4 separate regions of the Homo sapiens genome follow, and all the other regions are linked to region 3. The links come from fine-mapping of genetic effects on gene expression. A gene starts in region 3. Each other region holds a variant in brackets. All regions are shown on one strand. Distances are between the middles of the regions.

Region 1 (4,000 bases), 32 kb before region 3:
TAACTCCATTTCAAAAATGTTTTTCCTCAGGCGGGAAATGTCATTACCTTTTGCAGCAACAGAAATGGTGGAAGAAAAAAACAACTCAAGTTTTGAAAAAATATTTTATATTTATAAAAAGGCTTTCACTATATTTCCTCTTTCCAGAATTGTATTTGCATCTGAAAAGCAATTAAACAGAAATTTGTATCAAATTTGAATGACAAAACAATGAATTTTTCCCATAGGCTTACTGTATTCTCATGAAAATTTTTTGATACTATATCTAATCCTACATCTCACCAAATCTGATTCTTCATTTAACAGAGATGTAAATATATCAACATAACTGTTCTTTAATATGCAAATATGCGCATACAGGCTTTCAACCAATCTGTGCTGACACTTTATGGCCTGGTATTAATATGATCCCCCTGTATCATTTAGGTAGCTATCCAACAGTATGTGCCACTTAGACAGCCATCCAAAAGCATGGCTCTCCTTCAGTACCTAGTTCAACTCCCATACCTCTTTGGGGGCTACAAGTTCTTCGGCATGCAGCAACTCTGTCAACTTCTCGAGAGACAAGGCCAAGACTCAAAAGGGATCCTCTGATTCCAATTCCACTGCTCTTTTTGTGGTATTACAGGTTCATTTTAAGCCTGTACAGCTCAACACTGTGGGGTTATGTTGAATCCTACGCTTTTCTGTATGCCATAGGAGTGGCACCAGCTATAAAAGATGCTATGTTCTCTGTGAAGCATAGCTTAAGTCAAAACCTTACGTTGACAGAATTTTTAAAAATTGTGGAGCAGGGGTGAAGAGAAATGGGACAATAACCCAGGAATTTAAAAGCAAACAAAAACCAAAGGCTACCAGCCTTCAAAACAGAGCTCCAATACATTTCTCCCCTAATGACATCTTCCCAGAACCCCTCCACCCTCAGTGAGATCTCAGTGCTCCCATTCCCAAGCACCCTGCCCACACTACAAGTAGTCAGCCTTGTTATTTGTGGTTATGTCTGTCTCTCCATCTGGACAGGAAGCCCCTGAAAGCCAGCAGGCTCAAACATGTCTAGAGGCTAAAAGGCTTCAACACTAAAAATTCTCCGTTGATTAAAAAAAAATTACAAATTTGAAGAAGGAATAAATGAATTAGGCATAACTGGGAACATAGGAGGTCTCTCTTCACTCCAACAGCAGCCTCCAGATACATCTACCGCTTATCTTTCCTCTTGCAAAAAGTTAACCTTAGAAGGTGCCTAGCAGTAGGCCAGGTATTCTTCAGAAAGTAAAAATATAATAGTTCCTGTCCCAGACATGCTTAACAATCTAGCTGGGGGGATAAGACATACAGAAAAAAAAAAAAAAAAAAAAAAAGAGAAATGACTACAGAACAAAAAGCTAGAAGTGGCAGAAATATAAATAGATTTAGATTATTTCTTGGGAAGCATGTTTCTATTTCTGGAAAGAAGAAAGCGACCTTTTGACAGAAGCACTATCTATTATTACTGTCTCCTTGCACTAAGGGCCCAACCAGGGGGACACTGATGGAAGGAAGATAGCACACTGATTTTAAAGTCTCTTTATTATCTTCTGGAAACTATCTTTTGTTTCACTCCAAGAAGCTGTGGTATCAAAGAGGTGGGCACCTCTCATTACAAATAATTCGTGGCAGCTCCTCTTTCAAAACCTCTGTCCT[T/C]ACTGCAACTGGATGTGCCTGAGTCTAGTCCTGCTTAAACTCTCACAAGAACTCAAGGCTCAAGTTGCTGAATGGCTTACAGAACATTCCCTGTGTGGACATGCTGCAACCTCATACTCAACCTGTTCAAACCAAATTGCACAGTAAAAAATGGTACAGAGATGAAATATTCATTTTCGTTAGTCACAACATACAATCTCTTCTCCATCTACGGTCCCAAAACAAGTCAGTGGAGTTTACTCACTTCTTTGAACAGCCAGATTTGTTTGAATTGTTGATAACACCTTGAGTTATTGGTGTAACTCCTTGGCAGCAGCACCATGAACAAATTCCTCTTCTTAACTATTACCCTATCTTGAAAATACCTCAATAAAATTTGAAGTTCTGCCCAATGCTCTGCTAGTGATGCTCTAGACTTAACTGAGTTGGATGTTTGATGTGCTTGAGGATTTAAAAATAACTATTACCCCCAATCTTTTTTTGAGATGGTAGTCAAGTCTGCTTCCTCGATATTGGTGGTTATATCATGAGGTTCTATAAATTAACCACGCCCAACACAAAATGAAGTAACGACAGAATTTTGATTTAAAAATGAGTACTACCTATGAAAAACCAACCTGGTGGCACTGCAGCTTACAGACTAATCAAAGACCCTTGTGCCCTATCACATTAGCTGGCAGGGCTTAAGATATATAAAAACAGCTTATAACATTTTGTTTGAGGTTTGATTTTTTTCATGGCTGACAAAAACTATCATTTTGTAGTCCCCTCGTGTAGCTAAAGAACCAGCAGCAACACATTATTAATAGAAAAGAAAAAAAGAATCACAGATATTGCATTCTTTTAATATTATATCCACATTGAAATTTAAGGGTTATATACATAAAAACATTATAGAAAATGATTGTCAGAAAGTGGTTGCTAAATGAAGAATAACTTGTGAACATATCTTTTAGATAAAAATTCTCTTCATTAGAAAGCTTCAAATCATAGATGACAGAAAGGTATAATTTTAGAGATAATATAGTCCTAAACCTCCTCATTTTTATAGATGAGGAAACTAAATCACACACACAAAATAAGTGGATTAAACCAGGTAATAATGCAAAATAATAATATAAATAAGTCTGGAGACTATGTCTCCTGATTCTTAAGGGACAGTTCTTTCCACCGCATTCACTTAGCATTTATTAAGTACCAGAATTCTATGCTTAAGGCATTGTACTAGATATAAGGAGTCCTCTACCTTTCTCTTAAGAAGATATTCCCTATTAAAGGATATAGAAAAAATACATTATAAAGAATTAGACCATAATAGTATTCATTACAACTATTATTCTTGGCTACTGAAAACCAAAGTGAGGAGATGATTAAACTGGCAGATATAAATCAAACCATCAGCTTAAACTGATGTATCAATAATTACATCAAATGTTAACAGACTAAACACTCCAATTAAAAGGCACACACGAGCAAAATGGATAAAAAAAAAAAGAGCCAATTACTGTAGACTTCTGTCTAAAGAAATGCATTTTCAAGATAAAGAAACATGGGTGGAAAGCAAATGTATGGAAAAGGATAATACACAGGGCAAACAGTAAGCACATGACGGCTAAATTAACACCAAGTAAACTGCAAGACCAGGGATGCGGAAGGACATCTCATGATGATAAAGAGGTAATTTCACAATGGTGAAAAGCTCATACATCAGGAAAACACAGCAATCATAGATGTGTATGTACCTAATAACAGATTTACAAAATACATTCAGTAAAAATCAATATAAATGAAGAGAGATGTACAGAGTTCCTCAATCATACTTGGAGATTTCAATCTCTTAGCAATTGATAGAACTACAAAAGAATAAAAAACAAAATTTACCTGAACACTACTACCAACCATCTTGGTTTAACTGATATTTATAGAACATGACACCCAGCAACTGAGAACACACATTCTTTACAAACACACATGGCATGTTCACCAAGAGAGACCACATATGCTGGGCCACAAAACAAGTCTCAATAAATTTTAAAACACCAAAATTATACAGAGTAGGTTCTCTGGCCAAAATGAAAATAAATTAGAAATTAATAAGATATCAAGAAAAACCTCATTGTCTGGAAATTTGGAAATTAAACACCCCATTCCTATACATTCCATGGATCAAATACATATATATAAAGGGTATGAAAAAATATTTTGAATTGAATAATAATTAAAATACACCATATCAAAATGTGTGGGATTCAGCTAAAGCAGTGCTTTGAGGAAAATGTCTAAAATGATGGCCAAGCTTTTTTTCTCTTTTTTTGAGAAG
Region 2 (4,000 bases), 84 kb before region 3:
GTGGATTTTAGAAAAACTCACACACACATGTGCACACAGCAACTTCAGAAAGAGGATCTCCAAATGGCCAGTAAACACATGAAAAGGTAGTCAAAATCATCAGTTATCAGGGAACGCAAATTAAAACCACAAAGAAATGCCACTCATATTCATCAGAATGGAACAACTAAAACTCATACATTTCCTGTAGTAGTGAAAAATTGTAGAAGCACTTTAGAAAGCCACTTGGCAGAATCCTCAGCTAAATCTATGTACTCTCTACAACCCAGCAATTGCACTCTTAGGTGTACATTCTACAGAAATATGTCCTTATGTGTCCCAAAATACATACACAAGAATATTCATAACTCTAACCTGGAAACCCAGCAAGAGTTAAGACGGATAAATCGTGAACTATCAGCATAATGGAATCCCATATATCAATGAAAAGGAATGAAATACAGCTACTACAACGTTGACTCAATCTTACAGCAATGTTGAGCAAAAGTAACCAGAACAAAAATATGCAACAACAAAACTAGACCATGTAGTTAAGGGATACATACTTACGAAGAAAATACCAAAAAAGTTAGGATACTGGGAAGGAAGAGGGAAGGGCCAACAGAGGCACTTCTTGGATGCTGGTTATTGACATAAGTGGGGGTTAGAGAGTGCGATGGTCCGAATGTGTATCCCCCACAAAATTCGTATGTTGAAACTTAATCCCCAATGCAATAGTATTAAGAGGTAAGGTCTTTGGGTGACAATTAGGTCACGAGGCCTCTAGAACTATGAGAAATTTCTCATTTATAAATTACCCAGTTTTGTTATAGCAGCCTGAGTGAGCTAAGACATACAGGTGTTATTTAACATTTTATAAACTCTGCTATTTGTTACAGCTTCCAGTAAACTTTTAAAATGAAAAAGAAGGCAAGATTAAATAATCTCAACTATGTGACTGCTTAAATGGGGAATGAAATCAATTCTTCACATCTATGGAAAAACAAGTGAGCCAGGGTTGTGATTCCAACTGGATAAAGAATGAACGTGGAATTATTAATGTGATGTAACAGAGGAAGAAATAAGTTTAATTGATCAAGTATTTGCTCAGTATGTACTAGGAGCCTGGAAATTGAAGAGTTTTATCTCTTGGAATTCCTTAAGAAAAACCTTGGCTTAATAATTTAAATGTTTTCATGTCTGAAGCAGGAAAATGAATTAGCTATTACAGGTGCATTCTTGTTCTTTGATGCTTACTTGTTAGGACATAGGCCACCCTTCACTGCTAGTAATGTGTTCTTAGACAGAATTAAAATTGAGCCCACATCACATTCTCACAGCCAAACTTGTAAATCTATCCTTTAAAGCTCAAATTTCTGTTTTGATTAGATGCAAAACATTCAGATGATTTATGATTGTTTAATTAAAAGAAATCAGTGAAATAAAAACAAATTAAACTGTTTTAATTGCTTTTGGGTTCAATTAATCAACTATTGCCTACTTGATGTATCTACCAACATTAACACAAGGAAATATATTCATTAGTTTCATTCACTTGCTATTGAAATGAGACTTTATTATTTCTCATTGATCTCCTGCCAGGATGGCGATATTTTACTCTTC[A/G]ACAATGTACACTGATATCAAAGTTGGGAAAAGGTTTCTATCCTGAATGTTTGAAAATGAACCAATTAACTACACGACCCTAAACCTTTCAGAATTTTTTCCCCATTCTATTAAAAAAAAAATCATACAAAGGTTACCCATGTATAATCTTAGTTCTTCAAACTGGTTATTGCAACTAACACAGTATACATTATTCTCCATCACTGTGGAAATACAGAGTACCTCAAGAGAGTCTCCTACCCAGCAGCCTAAAGGTTCTTCTACACATTTTGAAAAGGCTACCAAGATAAGAACAAAGAATAAAATTAGGTAATTTACAAAGGAGGTATACAGAATCTAAATAGATACTACCATGGTAACTTACAGTTGGGTGATGCTGGTGGGTTATCTTACAGCTCTTAGAGAGTTTTTTTCTTTCAGGGAGTCTGGCCTATGATGTGACATAGGATGGCCCACAATCAACTGATTCAAAAATAGAGGGTCTCTGTTTCTATCAGTGCAGGATGTTTGCTATGTCACACATCATTCTCACTTCTTTACTCATGTCAAAAATCATTAGTGTGTCTCTGCAGAAGTTAGACTGTACCATCTTATAACCTGGTAGGAAGAGGGACCCCTTCTATTTATAGTCTCTTTAAATACAGACTTCAAGAGGGAAAATGGCAAGGTAGGAATTTTCAGAGATTCATCCTTCTGCTAAAACGACGATTACGCTGGAAAAAAAATAATTGCAACCAACTATTTTGGAATGCTGGAACTTGGTAAGATACTTACAGTGACTAGGGGAGTGTCTGATGAGGGAGAGGCTGTAAAACTTCACTCAGGGAACAGCATGCTTAAGCCACCAACCATCCCCCATTCCTTAGCTCCACCGTAGCCACAGGAATGGTAACTTATTTTCCTGGAGCAGCTGGCTGGAACTGGAGTGGGCAATAAGGACCTAGTCCTCCAAAAATATAGGGCTGTGTATTATGTTCACTTTGGAGGTTCCTGGAAGGACCAGTGCAGACACTTGTCTTTGTTTTGACCCCATCTCACTTCCTTCGTGGAGTGTATCAAAAGATTTGAAGAGATACACATCCTTTTTTCTTTTTTTGAACCAGACATTTAAGAAAAATCCCTCTCAGGTCACAGGCTGATCATAGAGATAAGAACAGAAATTTCAGTGACTACACACACAATGAAGAACACTCAGACTTTGCAAAAATAGTTTGGAAAAGTCACTAGACAGGGCCGGGTGCAGTGGCTCATGCCTGTAATCCTAGCACTTTGGGAGGCCAAGGCAGGTGGATCACTTGAGGTCAGGAGTTCGAGACTAGCTTGGCCAACAAGGTGAAACCCCGTCTCTAATAAAAATACAAAAAAATTAGCCAGGCCTGGTGGCACATGCCTGTAATCCCAGCTACTAGGGAGGCTGAGGCAGGAGAATAGCTTGAAACCGCGAGGCGGAGGTTGCAGTGAGCCGAGATCATGCCACTGTACTCCAGCTTGGGTAACAGAGCAAGACTGACTCCCCAAAAAAAAAAAAAAAAAAAAAGTCACTAGACAAATGCATGATTACAGACCTCAAAAGCAACTCCTCAGAAAGAGAAGAATGATTTCCAGAGTTACCACATTATACTAATTGTGTAGTTCTCAGTAGTTCAATATAAAATTGTAAAGCATACAAAGAACAGGGAAGAATGGCTCATTCACAGGAAAAAAGAATTCAACAGAAATTATTCCTGAGGAAATCCAGACACTGGGATTACTACTCAAAGACATTAAATCAACTGTATTAAATATGCCTAAGGAGTTACAAGAAACCATGGACAAAGAAAGGATATCAAGGGGATACTATCAAAAAGGAATGTCAATAGACAGGAATTATATTAAAAAATAGAAATTCTGGCACAGAGATGTATGATAGTAAAAATAAAAAATTCACTAGAGGTGTTCAATGGCAGTTAAGAGGAGGCAGCAGACAGAATCAGTGGACTTTAAGATAATGCAACTGAATTTATCTAGTCTGAGGAGCAGAAAGAAAAAATGTAGAAAAATAAAAGACGTGGGGGATACCATCAAGCATACCAATATATGCATTGCTGGAGTTTCAGAGGGAGATGAGAGACATAAAGGGTAGAAAAAAATGTTTAAAGAAATGGCTGAATACTTCCCAAATTTGTTGAAAGACATGAATCTATACATTCAAGAAGCTCAGCAAATTCCAAGCAGGATAGCCTCAAAGAGATCCACAATGATCACAATATGAGTCAAACTGTTGAAAACCTGAGAGAATCTTGAAAGCAGCAAGAGGCAAAATGAGTCATCACATAGAAGGAATCCTCAATTAGACTAACAACTGATATTAGAAACTATGGAGGTCAGAAGGCAATGGGATGGCACATTTAAAGTGCTG
Region 3 (5,007 bases):
CAAAGGCTAAATGCTTTCCAAACCATGTAACTCAGCACTTCCAGAGTTCTACAAAGGTGCCTCAGGGGCCATGCAACAGAGGTAGGACTGGTGGTGGTCATGGCAGAGGAAGGGAGAAGGGAAGAGGAAAATAAGGCATGGAGGAAAAAAAGGAGGAGGTCTCTTTATTTCCACCACAGCAGCTCTGCTTTCAGCTGTTTATATATTGAGGTTCTGTGTAAGAATTTATTTGGAGGGTAAAAGGGGATCGGCTGATAAGAACAGATAAGATTTGGAAACCACTTGTATAGCTCTTGAGTGTATCAAGAACTGGAAGAGTAAATGAGTAGGAAAAGACTTCATGAAGGAAATGGCACAGGGATCTTTAAAGATAGGGCAAGATTTGGACATGCAAAACAGAAGGCAATCCAGAAGAAATAATGTCAGGCATAGGAATTACCTATCTTTGTGTGAAACAGCACAGCCTAACTAAAATCCAGCTTTCTAACAGGGTGTAATAAAGAACAGATTACAGGGGACCCTGGCCACTAGGCAAAGGCATTGAAATGGAATGCAACAGACAGTGAAGAATTGCATATTCTCAACTTTGGAAATAAAAAGTTGAAAGTAACGTTTAAGGAAGGTAAGAATATTATCGGTACAAAGAATGATTCAGAAAGTGAAAAAGAATACATATAATATGGATACTACTCAAATGGCTCTTGAAAGGCAACATTGTTTTAAAAAACCCACAAAATCTAAGACAGGATCCAGTCCCAATGCCTACTGGCTGTGTGGTAACGGAAAAGATCGACAATTTTTTTTCTTTTTCTTTTTCTTTTTGAGACAGAGTCTTGCTCGGTCACCCAGGCTGGAGTGCAGTGGTGCGATCTCGGCTCACTGCAACCTCCACCTCCCAGGTTCAAGTGATTCTCCCGCCTCTGCCTCAGCCTCAGCCTCAGCCTCCCAAGTAGCTGGGATTAGATTACAGGCACCTGCCACCACGCCCGGCTAATTTTTGTGTTTTTAGTAGAGACAGGGTTTCACCACGTTGGTCAGGCTGGTCTCCAATTCCTGACCTCAAGTGATCCACCCGCCTTGGCCTCCCAAAGTGCTGGGATTACCGGCATGAGCCACCGCGCCTGGCCAAGATCAACAACTTTTGAGTGCCCATTTCCTTGTCTGTAAAATTGGGGTAATACATCCAAATTTCACAAAACCATTCTAAGACTCAAATAAATAATGTATATGAAAGCTGAAATACCATTCAAATATTAGTTAGTGATGAAGGTGGGTTAGGAGGTTGGCGGCCAGAATGAAGAGGAATAAACTATATCAAGAAGTAATTTCTAAGTAAGAATCAACATGACTTGGTGACAGAAGAAACTAAAAGAATCCTGGTAGATTGAGAAGGAGCAAGTTAGAGTGAGATAACAAATTAATTTAGGGCATGCAAATATGACAAGACTTAATCTAAGGTAACTTGGACACTTAGAATTGTTGCTTGGAAGAAAGAAAAATAACAGTTAATGTCAAGAAGCATAGGGATTAACGATGTATTTATTTTTCATTTTATGTTTTTTGAGGTCACAGATACAGCCTGACCAGCCAGCTCCATATCTAAGTATAATTTTGGTCTGGGAAAGTTACTTAACTCTTTGAATCTCAGCTTCTTCATCTGTAAAATGGAAATGATACCGACTTCAAAATACAAGCTCAATAAATGGTAGCTATTATTCTGACAACAATTACCATGATTAGACCAGCTGGTCAAATGAAATAGGAACAGAACCTGTGAGATACAGAAATAGGAACAGAACCTGTGAGAGAATATTTCAAATTTGAATCCGTCCTGTTGAAAAACCAAAGGTGGAATTGTTCATTGCTAACTCATGATGTAATAAAAATGGGAATAATTGCATGCACAACTCTTACACTGAATCCAAGGATAATTAAGGTTTTTTTAATATCTTAAAATAAGGCTTTAAAAGAAACTCTCTAACACGTCAAATGTGTCGTGAAACAAATCTTAACAAATGAAAAGTCCTACAACCCGTTAAATCGACGTTAACTCCTCGGAGGGCATATATTGGAATAATGGTTTCCCTGCCATTCAAACAAGACACCACGTGACTGCCAAAGAGGAAGAGAGGAAGGGTAGGGTGCTTCAAAAAGCAAAACAGGAAAAACGAGAAGGCTCGGGGACCAGAATGGACACACTGACCCTAGGTGGCGGGGCGACTGGACTGGGTAGCGGATTCTCGCGGTAAAAGTTCGGTTCAGCATTTGATTGCCTGGGCGTTCGCCCCTTTCGGACCACCCCTTTCCCCCATCTCCTTCCCCTTTCGCACCTTTCCGCTTCTGCCTCATTTCTGCGCCGCCGTAGCAGAGCCACCAGAGATAAAAATGCAGCCACAAACTCAGACCACGGGGAAAGCTGACAGCCACAAAACAATCCCGCCTGTCGTAAAATGTCGGTCAATGTATCGTAAAGCTCTTCCCGGAAGCCGACGTGCACAAAGCCACGCCCCGCCCCGTGTTGCAACTAACAGGGTAGCAGGCGGCCCGTGAGGCCCCTAGGCTGCGATCCTGCCCCGGGTCTCAGGGATGGAGGATGGGAACGTCTGAACGGAGTGGCATCTTGGGGTTAGAAAGCTCGACCTGGGCAGTACAGCTATGGGACAGAGTTCCTGGATAGAGGCTGCGCCAGGAAGCCTAAGTGAAAGGGTGGAAGTGGATGGTCTCTCATGGGGGGGAGTGGGAGCCCAGGGTCGTCACATCCGGGGAGGGTGGGTGGGAACGCGAATGGGCGAGACCACGGAGGAGGAACCCTCCCATGTTGTGGAAACTAACTGAGGGCCTGGAAGAGACCAGGCGGGAATCGAGTAAGAATCCGAGGTGCAGGCTTTGGGACCAGGTGGTCACCTTGGTCTTAGATGAATGGCACATATGATCGGTAACCATCGTGAAAGCTGTGGATGTCTCTTGTGGAAGGAAAATAACATCTCGGGACCCTAAACTCTGCCAAAGAAAAAAGTTAAGCTTAGGGCCGGGCGCAGTGGCTCACACATGTAATACTAGCACTATGCCCATCTCAGGAGGCCAAGGCCAGCAGATCATCTGAGGTCTGGCATTCAAGACCACCCTGGTCAACATGGTGAAACCCTGTCTCTACTAAAAATACAAAAATTAGCCAGGCGTGGTGGTGCACGCCTGTAATCCCAGCTACTTGGGAGGCTAAGGCAGGAGAATCTCTTGAACCCGGAAGTGGAGGTTGCAGTGAGTGGAGATCATTCTCTGTTGTCCAGCCTAGACGACAGAGCGAGACCCTGTCTCAACAACAACAACAACAACAAAAAGTTAAGCTTGTGAACTGAGTCACGCAAAAACTGCCTTCCTTCTGTTCCTAAACAGCTGCAAAGACAGAAGCCCACATATCTCCCTAGGTGGCCTCCCAGAGGAGTTGCTCACAGGGAAATTCCTTGTGAGTGGCAGAGTCTTTACCTTACAACACTTCTGTTGAATTCCACCCTGACCATGCAAATTTACAGTAGGTAGGGGACAAGGACAAGACTAGAAATCACCCTTCAGTCCACCCCAAGAAAAATGCATATTTGACTCCTTCCTCTATGTTTACTTTGTCTTCTGTAAAAGGCAGATTTACTGAGTGTGAAATGAATGCATAGTTGTTCCTCTTTCCCCTTCTGTCTGCTCTTTCCCTTTAAATATTGAAGTCCTCAAAACCCTCTTTGGAAAAACCACAGGCCACAGATTCCATGATAACTTATGTCTCTTTTTCCTGGGTGTGTCCTCAACCTTGGCAGAATAAACCTCCAGACTGAGACCTGTCTCAGACACTGTTTGGTTTACGTTCTCCAGAAAAATACACAGGCACAAAATTTTGCAAAATTTGGAGGCAGGACTTGGGATGTTTTCCTGAAACCCATCTATGATCTCCTTTGTCCATGGGCTGGAGATTAAGAACCTCTCCCATTAATAAAGACAGGAATATGTACCCTACTAGAATTGAGGCAACAACGAGGCTTTGACCCCACTATGACACTGAAACTGGCCTTGCTAAGCTTTGTAACTTCCCAGCCTGCCAAGTTCAGTGGTATTTGTCTGACCTCATTGTCATCCTATACCAATGAACATAAGTTCTCCTCTGTAAACCGAAAATAATTCTCAGCCCAGGGCATTCCAAAGTTAAACTGAAAAACTAGCTCAGGCCATGATGGGAAGTGGGGTTGGACATGCCTCCTTATTCCCTCCTCCTTTTTAGAATTCAGGAGCTGCTAACCAGTGTTAACATCAACACAGAGACCTTAAGGCTGATAGAGCACAGAACCGACTCTTAAAGTCTGATAAGAAACATTTACGGCCGGGCGCGGTGGCTCATGCCTGTAATCCCAGCACTTTGGGAGGCCGAGGTGGGCGGATCACAAGGTCAGGAGATCAAGACCATCCTGGCTAACATGATGAAACCCCGTCTCCACTAAAAATACAAAAAATTAGCCGGGCGTGGTGGTGGGCCCCTGTAGTCCCAGCTACTTGGGAGGCTGAGGCAGGAGAATGGCGTGAACCCGGGAGGCAGAGCTTGCAGTGAGCCGAGATTGCACCACTGCACTCCAGCCTGGGCGACACAGTGAGACTCCGGCTCAAAAAAAAAAAAAAAAAAAAGGAAACATTTACAATCTATTCTCTCTGAAGCCTGCTACCTGGAGGCTTCCTCTGCATGATAAAACCTTAGTCTCCACAACTCTGTGTCTTAACCCAGACATTCCTTTCTGTTCATTTCAGGTCTATAGATAATAACTCTTTCAACCAATTGCCAGTCAGAGAAAACTGAATCTGCCTGTGACCTGAAAGTGTTGCCCCCTGACCCCACATCAATGCTTTGAGTTGTCCCACCTTTCTGGTTGTTCTCTGTGGGATATGCGTGAGGGGAGAAGAAAAGACACATACACAATACCTTTAAGGGTAAACGACCTTTATCCCATGTAAATGGCAATGCAGATATAATAAGCA
Region 4 (5,091 bases), 96 kb before region 3:
AAGCATAATTGAGAAGTAGCTAAGTCCCTAAACGACACTCATGGAAAGCTGTGGTGGTTCCACAGCCAGCCCATAACAAAGCCACTGCCATTTGCCTCATAGCAGTTTAATGAAATGGCAAACAGCACCCGGGAGGAAATGAACAGTGCCATAGGTTGGAAACTGAAACCTGCACATTTGTGGCAAATGTCACTGCATTTACAGGGAGAGAAAGAAAACCACATGACTCTTCTTTGTATGTTAAAGACTTTTTATTTTCAGGCCCTTTCAGAGGAATCAATTCCTTTAAACCTTTGTAAAATGCCACAGGAGCCAAGGTTAAGCGATGCTTTTAACTTAGGAACTGACCCTCTCCAGGCAGAGTCTCCAAAGTAGATTACCTCGAAATTTCAAAGAGGCAGTTCTACAAGAGGAGCCTTTGAAGAAGCCAATCCTGTTTTCCATTGTTTTGCTTTCACACACGGGTTGAACTTGAACTCTTACCTTTCTCCATTTATAACAACCAAAATCCACCTTAAAAAATCAAAGGCTGGGAGCGGTGGCTCATGCCTGTAATCCCGGCATTTAGGGAGGCCAAGGTGGGTTGATCACCTGAGGTCAGGAGTTCGAGACCAGCCTGACCAATATGGTGAAACCCCCATCTCTACTAAAAATACAAAAATTAGCAGCGGCGGGTGCCTGTAATCCCAGCTACTCAGGAGGCTGAGGCGGGAGAATCGCTTGAACCCGGGAGGCGGAGGATGCAGTGAGATTGCGCCACTGCACTCCAGCCTGGGTGACACAGCGAGACTTTCTCAGAAAAAAAAAAAAAATTGCAAGTAATGGCTTCTGTGGAAGCAAATCTTGATTTAGGGGCACACAACCTGAGACTCCACCCGCTCAGGATAGACAGACAGGAAAGCCAAACGCTCTCTGGGGACCACACTTGGGGCTGCCCACACTGCTCTGTAGTTGCCAAGAGGGTGGGAAGTAGAGATAACAAAGAATGTGGAATGAAGCTCTTTGTCATCGCCGTCTCGGATGGTAGACTCCCGCCTGGGAGAGGCTGCTGGCTGGCTGCTGCCAGGCTCACACCCCCACAACTGCAATTCCTCTTTCCCAGTCACACTGCTATTTATTTCTAAACATCAGCACTGTAATCAGAATGATTTCCATGAAAACAAAAGCTCATTTTCCTAACTTGCGCTCCAATGCGTATGTCGTTAAAGGGCTGAGATTAGAGTCTGGTGGTTTTCCTGTTTCAACCTGACTTTCTGTCCCCAGGGTATATAAATAAACTACTCTTAAGTTTGCTCCTCGAATGACAATCAGTTTTATTGCATGAGTTATGGTGTCCAAATGAGTTAATTTGCTTTTTTCACCGTCTGAGTCAAAATAGGCCACCTGCAGGCCTCATGCAAAATGTAGAAACTGGATAGATGATTTAAGCCTCAAAAACGCAAGTGATTTTTTGGGGTGCACGCAGGAGAGGGCGGATCTGGGGTGTGGTCAGCAGATGACCAGCCGTGGCCTTGAAGGCAGTTTCCAGTCTCTGCAGCTGCGGGATGAGGGTGAAGCCCCCCATTTGCTCTGCTCAGCCTCTCTGTTGAGTATTTAAGAAATCCTGATTCTCCGTGTTCTGCCAGGGAGGATACTGCAGAAGAGTGGACTGGTGTGGCCATTATTTCAGCATCTTCACCATGTACGGGCCTTGTAATCTGTAGCCGATCTTTCTATAATAATTCCTGGTGCCGACCCCTGCAGAAAAATCGAAGTTAAAAAAGGAGCATTCACTTTAGCAATTCTCAAAAGTCGGCATGTGCTTCCCTCAGCCTTACACTCTCTCCCACCCAGAGACCAAATTCTCTCCCACATAAAATCTCAGCTTAATAAGTTTGGAACATTATTACTTTGAATTCAGGCTGCATTAAAATATAGAAACTGCTAAGTGGAGAGAAGAAGACTCTTTCCCTGATTTTTAACTCAAGCTCAGGGTATGTGACACACACACTCACAGGCAACAGCAAACGTGTGCACCCGTGTGTTGGAGCCTGCGTATTCACTACCCTACTGGCAACACCAGGCACCACCTTAGGTGCTACAGGTGAAGGAGAAGAGGTGGATTTACTGTCTGAGCTGCCTATGCTCCAGATGAGGCCAAACGATAGACGGTTTCCCAGAAGTTTTAAAGAGAGAAGAGTGGGGGAAAAAATGGGATCTCCACTCAGCCCCAGTAGCGAAGGTACACTTGTGGCTACTGTCAGAAGTGTTGGAAGTATACAAGGCTTAACAGGAAAAAGTGTTTTCCTCATCAGTTGGTGTCAAAGAAGCAGCTTTGCTGGGATGGCCCTGGCTCATGAAGTGTGGTTTGTGAAGAGAAGTGTAGGTTTTCCATACCAAGCAACTGTCCAGTTCTCTGTTGACACCAACTGGGTGTTCTATAATTTAACTCAATTTGGACCCTACCTACTCTGATGAGCGCAAGGCCCCCCAGTTCTGAGCTCAGTCCAGAGACTGCCCCCAACTTCAGACACCAATTGCAAGCAGAGGGGCTGCAGGTTGCCTACAACTGCTGTCCAAGTTGGCTACAAATGGAGGGTTCCTACAAGCCCCTCCTCAGATTTGATAATTTGTCATAATGGCTCACAGAGCTCAGGGAAACATTTACTTACGTTTACCAGTTTATTACAGGATATGATAAAAGATACAAGTGAACAGCCAGGTGAAAAGGCACACTGGGTGAGGTCTGGGAGGGTCCCGAGCACAGAAGTGTTTGTCCCCACCGCGTTGGGGTGCACCATGCTCCCAGCAAGTGGATGTGTTTGCCAAAATGAAAAGTTCTCTGAACCCCATCTTTTAGGGATTTTTATGGAGTTTCATTGTGTAGGTATGATCAATTACTAACTCCATTTCCAGCCCCCTTCCCTCCCCGGAGGAGGGAGGGTGGGGCTGAAGGTTCAACCCTCTCCTCATGGCTTCATTTTTCTGGTGACAGGTCCCCACCCAGGAGCCCACCAAGAGTCACCAGATT[AGAACAAAAGATGCCCCTTG/G]AACCCCTGCAGCTCAGAAAATTACAAGGGTTTTAGGAGCTCTATGTCAGGAACCAGGAACAGAGACCAAATTATATTTTTTATGATGTCTCAACATTCAAGGAACATGAACTAGTTGAAGTTGGTACTAAAGGTCCATTACCCCTGCATATTGGACGCATTCCTCAAACAGCCCGGCTGTCTGTGCCTGGGAGTGAGACAGCTGAGGCTGGGCGGGGAGAGCGATCAGCAGCACCTGCCACAGGCACTCCCTCCGTCCTTCCCTCCCTCTCTGCACGTCCCTGCACTGGGCTTTGGAGAAGTGCATCTCCTGATTCTCCTCTAGCTCGCTGGCTGCCCTTCCTTAGTCTCCTTTGCTGCTTCCTCCTCGTATCCCTAACTGAAATCACTGCAATATGCAGCTCTTCTGTGCACGCGCTTCCTGTGACACTGAGCGTAAACCTATGTATACACTGGCAACCCCTAAATCTGTCACTCAGAGCTCTCCTTGAGCCTCAGATTCGTCCACAGGTGCTGCATGACCCACCTGAATGTCTAAATTGCATGGAAGGTGTAGCAGGTCAAAAACCCAACTCCTGGTAACCTGCCCCGCAAGCTCCCTCCGCAGGAAGCTCCCTCTCTGTAAATGGCCACTCCACTGCCAGTTGTTCAGGGCAACTCATTCCCATCTTTCTGTCAAATTCCAAATCAAGAGACTTGAATAAAATGAAAGAGAAAGGCCTGAGGCTACATGGGGGGGACAGGATTCTAGGGAGCAGGAAAAACAAATGTGAAAGTCCTGAGACGGGCGTGCACTCAACTTACTCAAGGAACAAGGAGGCACCATCATGCAGGTCTCCTAAGGAATCTGGCTTTTATTCTGAGTGAGATGGAAGAATGAGAGGATGCTGGTCAAAGGAGGGACATGATCTGACTGCTGTTTTGAGAACAGAATGAAGGCTCCAGGAGGGCAGGGATTTTGTTTTATTCACTGTAGAGCTGCCAGTACCCAGAGTGATGCCTGTCACATGTGAGGTACACGGTAAATATTTGCTCACTGAATGGATATGTGACCAAGGGCAGAAATAGGGAGATCAGGTAGGAAGCGATGACAATAATCCAGGTGGGAGATGGTGGTGGCTCGGGCTGAGTCACAGTGGTGAAAAGTACCCAGAGCCTGGGCATATGTGGAAGGCAGAGTGAAAAGAATCTGCCAACGGATGTGGGGTGTGACGGGAGCCAAGGCGACTCCAGGGTATTTAGCCTGAGTAAAGGAAGAGTCTGGAGAAACAGGAGCCACCACTGCCTGGGAGTGAGGAGATGGTGGGAAGAGCTTGCAAGAGGAATCAGGAGTGGGGCTCCAGTCAGGCTGCATGTGGAATGGCTGCTAGACATTCATGCCAAGATGCTGAAGACTCTGATTTTGGAAGCTTTTGTTGTTCTTAAAGAGACACAGGGAGTGCTATGGGTTAGGTATTTGTCTCCTCTGAAACTCATGTTGAAACTTAATCCCTATTACTGAGAGGTGGGGCTATGAAGAGGTGACTAGAGTGTGAGGGCTCTGCCCTCATGAAAGGATTAATCTATTCATGGACTAACAGGATAATGAGTTCTAGTGGTTTTACAAGAAGAGGAACAGGGTCCTGAGCTGGCACATGCAGCCCTACCACTGTGTGATGCCATGTGCTATCCTGTGCCACCGCAGGACTCCACAGAAAGTCCCCACCTGCAAGAAGGCCCTCACTAGATCCAGCCCTTTGACCTTGGACTTTTCAGCCTCCAAAACTGTAATAAATAAATTCCCTTTCAGGTATCCTGTTATAAGCAATCGAAAATGGACTTAGGGACGGTCTCTTTTCTTGGATGTTGCTTTGCAAGGTAATTTCGGACGGGGGCAGTTGTCTTCCAAGGGGCTGAAGTGGTGATGAAGAGTGAGAAGGCAGAGCCACCTGGCTCCTTTTTGAAATTGCCGAACCCTGAATTAATCAGTCCCAAAGCTTCTCTATATATTTCTTATGAAATATTTTCCATTTGGTTTAAGCCATTTTGAGGATATTTTTGCTTTTAAGTATACAGCTCGGTG

Which allele goes with the higher level. Alleles are on the strand shown, and positions count from the first base shown. SD is a standard deviation of normalised expression in the study named. Not every link is listed here.
For the expression in amygdala of the gene that starts at base 2,425 in region 3, allele T in region 1 goes with a lower level than allele C (moderate effect, 0.67 SD a copy in GTEx).
For the expression in unexposed skin of the gene that starts at base 2,425 in region 3, allele A in region 2 goes with a higher level than allele G (small effect, 0.28 SD a copy in GTEx).

The links. PIP is the estimated chance that this variant, and not a neighbour inherited with it, causes the effect.
Region 1: its variant is the best candidate, but not a certain one, in a credible set for the expression of ELP3 in amygdala (GTEx, PIP 0.61).
Region 2: its variant is the best candidate, but not a certain one, in a credible set for the expression of ELP3 in unexposed skin (GTEx, PIP 0.60).
Region 4: its variant is the best candidate, but not a certain one, in a credible set for the expression of ELP3 in blood mononuclear cells (TOPMed, PIP 0.69).

What each region holds. Positions count from the first base shown.
Region 1 is chr8:28,123,118-28,127,117 of GRCh38, reverse strand. All of the region lies in intron 7 of ELP3 (elongator acetyltransferase complex subunit 3), which reads right to left. Among named protein-coding and RNA genes, the nearest start is that of ELP3, 32 kb to the right of the region's middle. The variant T/C (reference allele first, on the strand shown) is at 1,681.
Region 2 is chr8:28,174,950-28,178,949 of GRCh38, reverse strand. The region is part of intron 14 of ELP3 (elongator acetyltransferase complex subunit 3); the gene reads right to left. LOC105379343 (a long non-coding RNA gene) reads left to right here. Exons shown (of 2, transcript XR_949614.3): 2 at 879-4,000. Among named protein-coding and RNA genes, the nearest start is that of ELP3, 84 kb to the right of the region's middle. The variant A/G (reference allele first, on the strand shown) is at 1,603.
Region 3 is chr8:28,090,557-28,095,563 of GRCh38, reverse strand. ELP3 (elongator acetyltransferase complex subunit 3) reads right to left here and starts at 2,425. Exons shown (of 15, transcript NM_018091.6): 1 at 2,331-2,425. The coding sequence starts at 2,349. RefSeq lists enhancers at 2,750-2,799, 2,291-2,844.
Region 4 is chr8:28,186,295-28,191,385 of GRCh38, reverse strand. ELP3 (elongator acetyltransferase complex subunit 3) reads right to left here. Exons shown (of 15, transcript NM_018091.6): 15 at 233-1,737. The coding sequence ends at 1,661. Among named protein-coding and RNA genes, the nearest start is that of ELP3, 96 kb to the right of the region's middle. The variant AGAACAAAAGATGCCCCTTG/G (reference allele first, on the strand shown) is at 3,011.